2 linked regions of the Homo sapiens genome follow. The protein of the gene in region 2 interacts with the protein of the main gene of each other region in a biochemical or structural test. Each region holds a gene or a part of one and is shown on either strand. Other genes may lie near its edges.

Region 1 (3,500 bases), about 21 Mb from region 2:
GGAAAACAGAGAGAAAAGAGACCGATGATTGAGAAAAGAAGTTCAAAATGCAGCCATGTTCCATGCCACAATGTGTCCAGCTGGAGAACACCTCCCAGAGGCACTCACACTTCAGGTGGAAAAGATCTGCCGTACGCATTTAAAAAATGGCCGGAAAATTCACTGGAACCCACCTTCATAATCATTAATTCCATGGTGAGAATTTCATCTCCTGAACAAGCTCCATCTGTCACATACGCAAACTGGTGCAACTTTGGAGGATAGATTTCCTGAAAGGAAATAAAAGATGGCACTAGCACCAAAGCCAATCTCTAACAGTCTCAATTTATAATGCATCCAAAATGACTTCTCAGTACCCTGGCATGGAAAGAGAGAGGGCGCACTGATGGAATTAACACAGAAGCCACACCAATGGTTGTAAAAAAAAAAAAAAAAAAAAAAAAGAACACAACTCCCACCCACCATTAAATAAATGGATGGAACTTTGACTCATTGTGGGTACTCTTGAAATATCCCCTTTTCAGTACCTTTAACACATTTGAAAGTTGGGCCCATATACCCTTTGATAATCATACACAAATTTTTAATCTTTTCTTTTTTCTTTTAGACAGAATTTCCCTCTGTTGCCCAGGCTGGAGTGCAGTGGTAGGATCTCGACTCACTGCAACCTCGGCCACCTGGGCTCCAGCAATTCTCTTGCCTCAGCCTCCCGAATAGCTGGGATTACAGGCACGTGCCACCACGCCTGGCTAATTTTTTGTATTTTTAGTACAAATGGTATTTCACCATGTCTCAAACTACTGGCCTCAAGTGACCCAGCTGCCTTGGCCTCCCAAAGTGCTGGGATTATAGGCTTGAGCCACCAACCCGGGCCCAAAATTATTATCTTAGTTCAAAGTTCATTTTTTTTTTTGGCTCAATGTAACTACATGAACCTAGGTCTTCCATACCCTCACTACTTTTCTCTTCCTGGTCACTTTCCAGCCTTTTTTTCTTTTTGGCATGTGTCTTAACTTTACAGGGTAGCAAATCAGAAAAATTTAGGATGAGTGCTATAGGCTAAGCGCCAACCTCTTCCCCCAATCTCAGTGGAGCTCGAGAAATAACACACATTATAGAACAAATATTTGAAAATTATTTACCTCAAGTTTGGCTGCAATAAATAAAGATGAAATCCCAATAAGCTGTAAAAGAGTTTTTACAACATTTTCTTGTGTCGCCATATACCGGTCAAAGAAATCTTGTGCCAAGTAAAAGGTCTCCCTGTGAAGTTTATAGACTTCACACACCTGAAAACATATTTAGTAAGTTTTAGCACAAGTAAGTTTTACTTGAGGGAGGGGAAAAAAAAAAAACTTGTAATGACTTTGGTGAAGGAAAATATAAAATGCAAAGTTCCTGAACTCAACAATTGATAGTTTTTTGTTTTTTTGTTTTTTTTTTGAGGTGCCTTATTCTGTCACCCAGTCTGGAAAGTAGTGTTGTGATCTTGGTTCACTGCAACCTCCAACTTCCAGGCTCAAGCGATTCTCTTGCTTCAGCCTCCCGAGTAGCTGGAATTACCAGCACCCGCCACCATGCCCAGCTAATTTTTGTATTTTTAGTAGAAATGGTATTTCACCACGTTGGCCAGGCTGGTTTTGAACTCCCGGCCTCAAGTGATCCACCTGCTTCGGCCTCCCAAAGTGCTGGGATTATAGGGATGAGCCACTGTGCCCAGCCTAACAACTGATAGGTTTTAAATGAGGGGCCCTTCTGGCCTGTCCCACCCTCACCTGCCTAGGATGTGAATCATCCCCTTGCCCGCACATCCCCGTGGAGTAGGCCACCTGCCTGTTAGTCACTCACTAGCACACAGGTCATCAGATGGACTGTCACAGCACAGCAGTGCTGGTGTTCAAGCAAGCAGCCCTTATTTGACTGAATAATGGCCCCACAGGGCAAGAGTAGTGATGCTGGCTATTTGGAAATGCCAAAGAGAAGCCGTGAAGTGCTTTCTTTAAGTGAAAACATGAAAGTAGAGGATTAAAAACATGGCATATCTAGAGCTCAGTACTATCTGTGGCTTCAGGCATCTCCTGCGGGTCTTGGGATGTACCCCCGAGGATGAGGGGTACTTCTGTAGTTACACACTCAACTTCTACATGTTTTCATGAAGCAGGTCTGCCTGAGATGTCCTTCCACTTCAGAAGAAAAGCCCACTTCTCACCCATTCAAGTCTTACAAGGTTGTCTAGGAAGCTTCCCTTAATCAAGAAACTATAAGCTACCGCAGTTCATCCCAGTAAGATATACAACCAATAAAATCTCATCTTTTATGTTTAACCATTATCTATCAAATGTTGTTATACTTGTTCTTTTGATTAACTGTTAAAGAGAAATAAAATAGTGTGGACCAAGAAAAGATTTGAGTTGGGTGCTGTAGCTCACACCTGCAATCCCAGCACTTTGGGAGGCCAAGGCATGGGGATCCCTTGATCCCAGGAGTTGGAGACCAGCCGGGGCAACATAGCAAGACCCCAACTCAACAAAAAATAAAAAATCGGCAGGGAGTAGTGGCTCATGCCTGTAGTCCCAAGGACTGCGGAGGCTGAGGTGGGAGGACTGCTTGAGCCCAGGAATTGGAGCCTGCAGTGAGCCGTGACTGCACCACTACACTCCAGCTTGGGTGACAGAGCAACTCTGTCTCAAAACACAGAAGCCACTCCAATGGTCCAAATATCTTTAAAAATATGCTTAAAAAAAAAATTGAGACAGAGTCTCATGGTCACCTAGGCTGGAGTGCAGTGGCGCTATCACAGCTCACTGCAAGCTCCAACTCCCAGGCTCAAGCAATCCTCCCACTTCAGCCTCCCCAGTAGTTGTGACTACAAGCCTGAGCCACTATACCCTGACAATTTTTTATTTTTTGTTGAAATGGGGTCTCAAGGGCCAGGCGCAGTGGCTCACGCCTGTAATCCCAGCACTTTGGGAGGCCAAGGCGGGCGGATCACCTGAGGTCGGGACTTCAAGACCAGCCTGACCAACATGGAGGAAACCCCGTCTCTACTAAAAATACAAAATTAGCCGGGCGTGGTGGCGTATGCCTGTAATCCCAGCTACTCGGGAGCCTGAGGCAAGAAAATCGCTTGAACCCGGGAGGCAGAGGTTGTGGTGAGCCAAGATCACACCATTGCATGCCAGCCTGGGCAACAAGAGCGAAACTCCGTCTCAAAAAAAAAAAAAAAAGACATGGGGTCTCGCTATGTTGCCCAGGCTAGTCTCTAACTCCTGGGCTCAAGGGATCCTTCTGCCTTGGCCTTCCAAAGTGCTGGGATTACAGACATGAGCCACTGTGCCCAGCCAGGATTTGAACAATATATTTTATTAGAATAAATGGGAATGGTGGAAAAGGGAATGGATTCCAAGAAGTTAAAAAGGAGCAATGTCAGACCTGTTTAAGATAAGCTTGTTCATATATGTTTACAATTTATGACAGTAGCTATAAAACAGGTGATATAT
Region 2 (3,500 bases):
GGAGGCGGAGGTTGTGGTGAGCCAAGATCGTGCCATTGCACTCCAGCCTGGGCAACAAGAGCGAAATTCCATCTCAAGAAACAATAACAAAAAAGCAAAAATTTGCGGGGCGTGGTGGCTCACGCCTGTAATCCCAGCTACTTGGGAGGCTGAGGCAGGAGAATCGCTTGAACCTGGGAGGTGGAGGTTGCAGTGAGCCTCGATCGTGCCATCGCACTCCAGCCTGGGCGACACAGCGAGACTCTGTCTCAAAAAAAAAAAAAAAAAAAAAAGAAAGAGAAAAGGGGTTGGGTGCAGTAGCTCACGCCTATAATCCCAACACTTTGGGAGGCCGAGGCAGACGGATCACAAGGTCAGGAGATCAAGACCATCCTCGCTAACACAGTGAAACCCCGTCTCTACTAAAAACACAAAAAATTAGCCAGGCGTGGTGGCGGGCGCCTGTAGTCCCAGCTACTTGGGAGGCTGAGGCAGGAGAATGGCATGAACCTGGGAGGCGGAGTTTGCAGTGAGCCAAGATTGCGCCACTGCACTCCAGCCTGGGCGACAGAGCGAGACTTTGTCTTGGAAAAAAAAAAAAAAGGGAGGACATGTGGAAACAGACACGCACAGAGAGAAGACGGTGTGAAGAGGCACAGGGGGATGATGGCCGTCTGCAAGCCAAGGAGAGAGGCCGTGAACCAGTCCTCCCTTGCAGCCCCCGAAGGAAGCAGGCCCGCTGACACTTTGGTCATGGACTTTCCAGCCTTCAGGACGGTGAGACAATGACTTTTTGCTGTTTTCAGCCACCTGGTCTGTGGCTCTTTGTTACAGCAACTCGGGCAGAGGAATCCACCCTTACACACATGCAGACTCAAGAAGCATCCGGAATTTGCCCCATCAGTCAACACACTCCCCCCTCCTCCTCCATTATGATTCTTTTCCTTATGCTGATATAACCTAAAGGAAGACTGGGATTCAGTGGCTGCTTCATGGCTTGTTGAACCCCTGCAAGCTTCAGGCCGACCTTGAATGCACAGCCTTCTCTTACTCCACCGTAACGCCCTCCTTGCCTCTGATAAAAGCCACAGTAACTTTTTCGACTTGGAGCAGGGCAGGACCAGGCCTAGGCTGCCCCTGCAGGCAATCGGCTGAGGCACACAGAGCAAGATGCACCAAGCCATGTGGAGAGGGAGTGGGAAGGAGGCCCAGGGCCCGGAGGCCACACCTGGGGCATCTGAGAGAAGCCTCCCACCTGCCCAGCCCTCACCTTGAGGGTCTGGGCCCGAGAGATGAGGTACGGAAGGTCGAAGTTCTGGATGTTGTAACCGGTGATCACGTCGGGGTCCATGATACGGATGAAGGTGGACCAGGCCTGGGGGTGGGAGCACATTGGGTCACCCTGGTGGTTGCCCTGCCTCGGATTCCCCTACTTCCAGAATGTTCTAGAACCCCAGCCACCCCTGAAAATCCTGCAGAACCCAGAGGGGAAGTGCTCAAGCCTAATTGCACAGGGGCCCACCCAGACCCACAGACACCCACCCAGACCCACAGACATGGGCGTCGCAGCACCCAGGAGCTGATGGCTCAGGACGCGGAGGCTGGCGGGGACCCCGGGAAATGGTGTGGGGCGTGGAGCGAGAGCTACCTGCAGCAGGTCCTCCTCCTTCTCGTAGCTCTGCACCTTGGCACCCAGGATGGGGGCACAGGGCCGCAGGGTGAGCGCCAGGCGTAGGAAGGGCTCCGGCTCCCCCCAGCGCAGGCCCAGCGAGCAGATCTGGATGACAGGGTCCCGCTCAGGCTCAGGGAAGATGCCTGCGAGGCAGGAGGATGCAGGGGCCTGACTCCTGCCCCTCACTCCCAACACAGCAGGGAGGCTGCACCTGCCATCTCCCCGGGGCTGTCCCCGCTGCCTGCCGGCCCTACGTGGCTCACCCTGGCTCCTGCTCTGCTCTCACCTCCAGGCCATCTCCACACCCTCTGTGCTCACTCCATCTGGCCACATGGGCTGGGGTGCTCCTGCCCCGGCACCTTCATGCTTGCCATTCCCTCCACCGGACCTGCCTTTCCGACCCCCGACTTGGCACATCAATGAGGCGGGCAGGAGCCCGGGCCCGGGGACAGACCTTTGCGGCCGGCGCACTCGATATCGAAGCTGAGCACGCGCAAGGGCGCAATGCGCTGCCATGGCCCTTCCGGTGGGTGACTGACCACGTCAGACCACAGCACGTCCGCCTCCAGCTGGCACTGCGTAGCCTGTGGGCATGGGTGGGTCAGCGGTGGCAGCAGGGTACCAGCTCCCCACCCAGCCCTGCCCTGGGAAGCCCTGCACCTTCTCCTTCAGCCTCAGGGCGTATTTCCCAGCTGGGAGCTCCAGCCAGTTGCAGCCGACGATGTCCGTGTCCACCATGAACCTGGAGGGGGCTGGGGGTCAGTGGACAGGGGCTGCCCGAGGGTGGGGATAGAGGCCGGAGAAGTGAGGCAGAGGCCGTACCGGATCTCAAAGTCGACGTTGGCCTCGTAGGGCGCGAAGCTGGGCGTGCCCAGGCCTGCCACACGGATGCCCTGTTCCAGGAGACGGCGGGCCGGGGCCACGAGGCGCGGCAGCGCCACGGTGATGCGCAGGAACGGGGAGGGGCCGTGCCCGTGGTACCCAAACATGCCTGTGGATGGAAGAAGCTGGGACCAGCCAATGGCCTCCCGAGGGGACCCTCCAACCCGCTGATCCTGGGGGAGCACTCACTCTCTCGGGAGCACAGTTCCACAGCCAGCACGGCCGGCCCAGTCAGCTCCCTCCCCCCGCGACTGTCCCGGCTGATGGCCAAGTTCAGCTCCCGTTGCAGGTCACCCATGTGCTCGGGCCCGAAACCTGGTGTGGGAGGGATGATCAGAGGTGCAGGGGGCTCCAGTGGCTCAGGGAGGGGCTGGGTAGGGGCCACTCACCAGGGGGCGCTGGGGTGTAGAAGTAGGGAGCGAAGCCGTGGATGTGGCAGCAGACAGAGAACCCCTCATCGGTGACCCCGAAGGCGCGGAGCACAGGCACGGAGCCGCGGGATGGTGGGGGCCCCCCAGGCACAGGCTGCGCTGGGCCTGTGGGGTCACAGGGTAAGACAGCGGCCATGCCTCTCAGGGTCCTCCAAGGTGTGTCTCCACAGCCTCGAAATACCTTGGGGCCTGCAGCCTGGGGCACTCCTGCCCCTGTACCGTTCCCTGTGTCCATTTCAGCCTCCCCCCTGGTTCCCATCTCCAGCCTCATCCCCCAGGATCCATTCTCCACAGCACAACTACAGGGAGGCCCTTCTTTTTTATTACAAGATAAAAACAACTGGCCGTGCACAGTGACTCACACCTGTGATTCCAGTGCTTTGTGAGGCCAAGGCGGGAGGATCGCTAGAGCCCAGGACTTTGAGACCAGCCTGGGCAAAAGAGCGAGACCCAGTCTCAAAAAAAAGAAAAAAAAAAAAAAAAAAAAAAAATATATATATATATATATATATATACACATATACACAAATACACAC

What was found. The genes of interacting proteins can lie anywhere in the genome.
Region 1: of the proteins of POLD1 (region 2) and CCNE1, one has a biochemical effect on the other in vitro, tested with the Homo sapiens proteins (one study listed by BioGRID).

Annotation. Positions count from the first base shown.
Region 1 is NC_000019.10:29,818,491-29,821,990, reverse strand, and holds part of CCNE1 (G1/S-specific cyclin-E1), read right to left. Parts: intron 1,290-3,500; coding exon 1,143-1,289; intron 270-1,142; coding exon 174-269; intron 1-173. UniProt on the Homo sapiens protein: Essential for the control of the cell cycle at the G1/S (start) transition.
Region 2 is NC_000019.10:50,401,347-50,404,846, reverse strand, and holds part of POLD1 (DNA polymerase delta catalytic subunit), read right to left. Parts: intron 3,070-3,500; coding exon 2,923-3,069; intron 2,849-2,922; coding exon 2,723-2,848; intron 2,643-2,722; coding exon 2,474-2,642; intron 2,394-2,473; coding exon 2,312-2,393; intron 2,236-2,311; coding exon 2,106-2,235; intron 1,795-2,105; coding exon 1,628-1,794; intron 1,355-1,627; coding exon 1,250-1,354; intron 1-1,249. UniProt on the Homo sapiens protein: As the catalytic component of the trimeric (Pol-delta3 complex) and tetrameric DNA polymerase delta complexes (Pol-delta4 complex), plays a crucial role in high fidelity genome replication, including in lagging strand synthesis, and repair.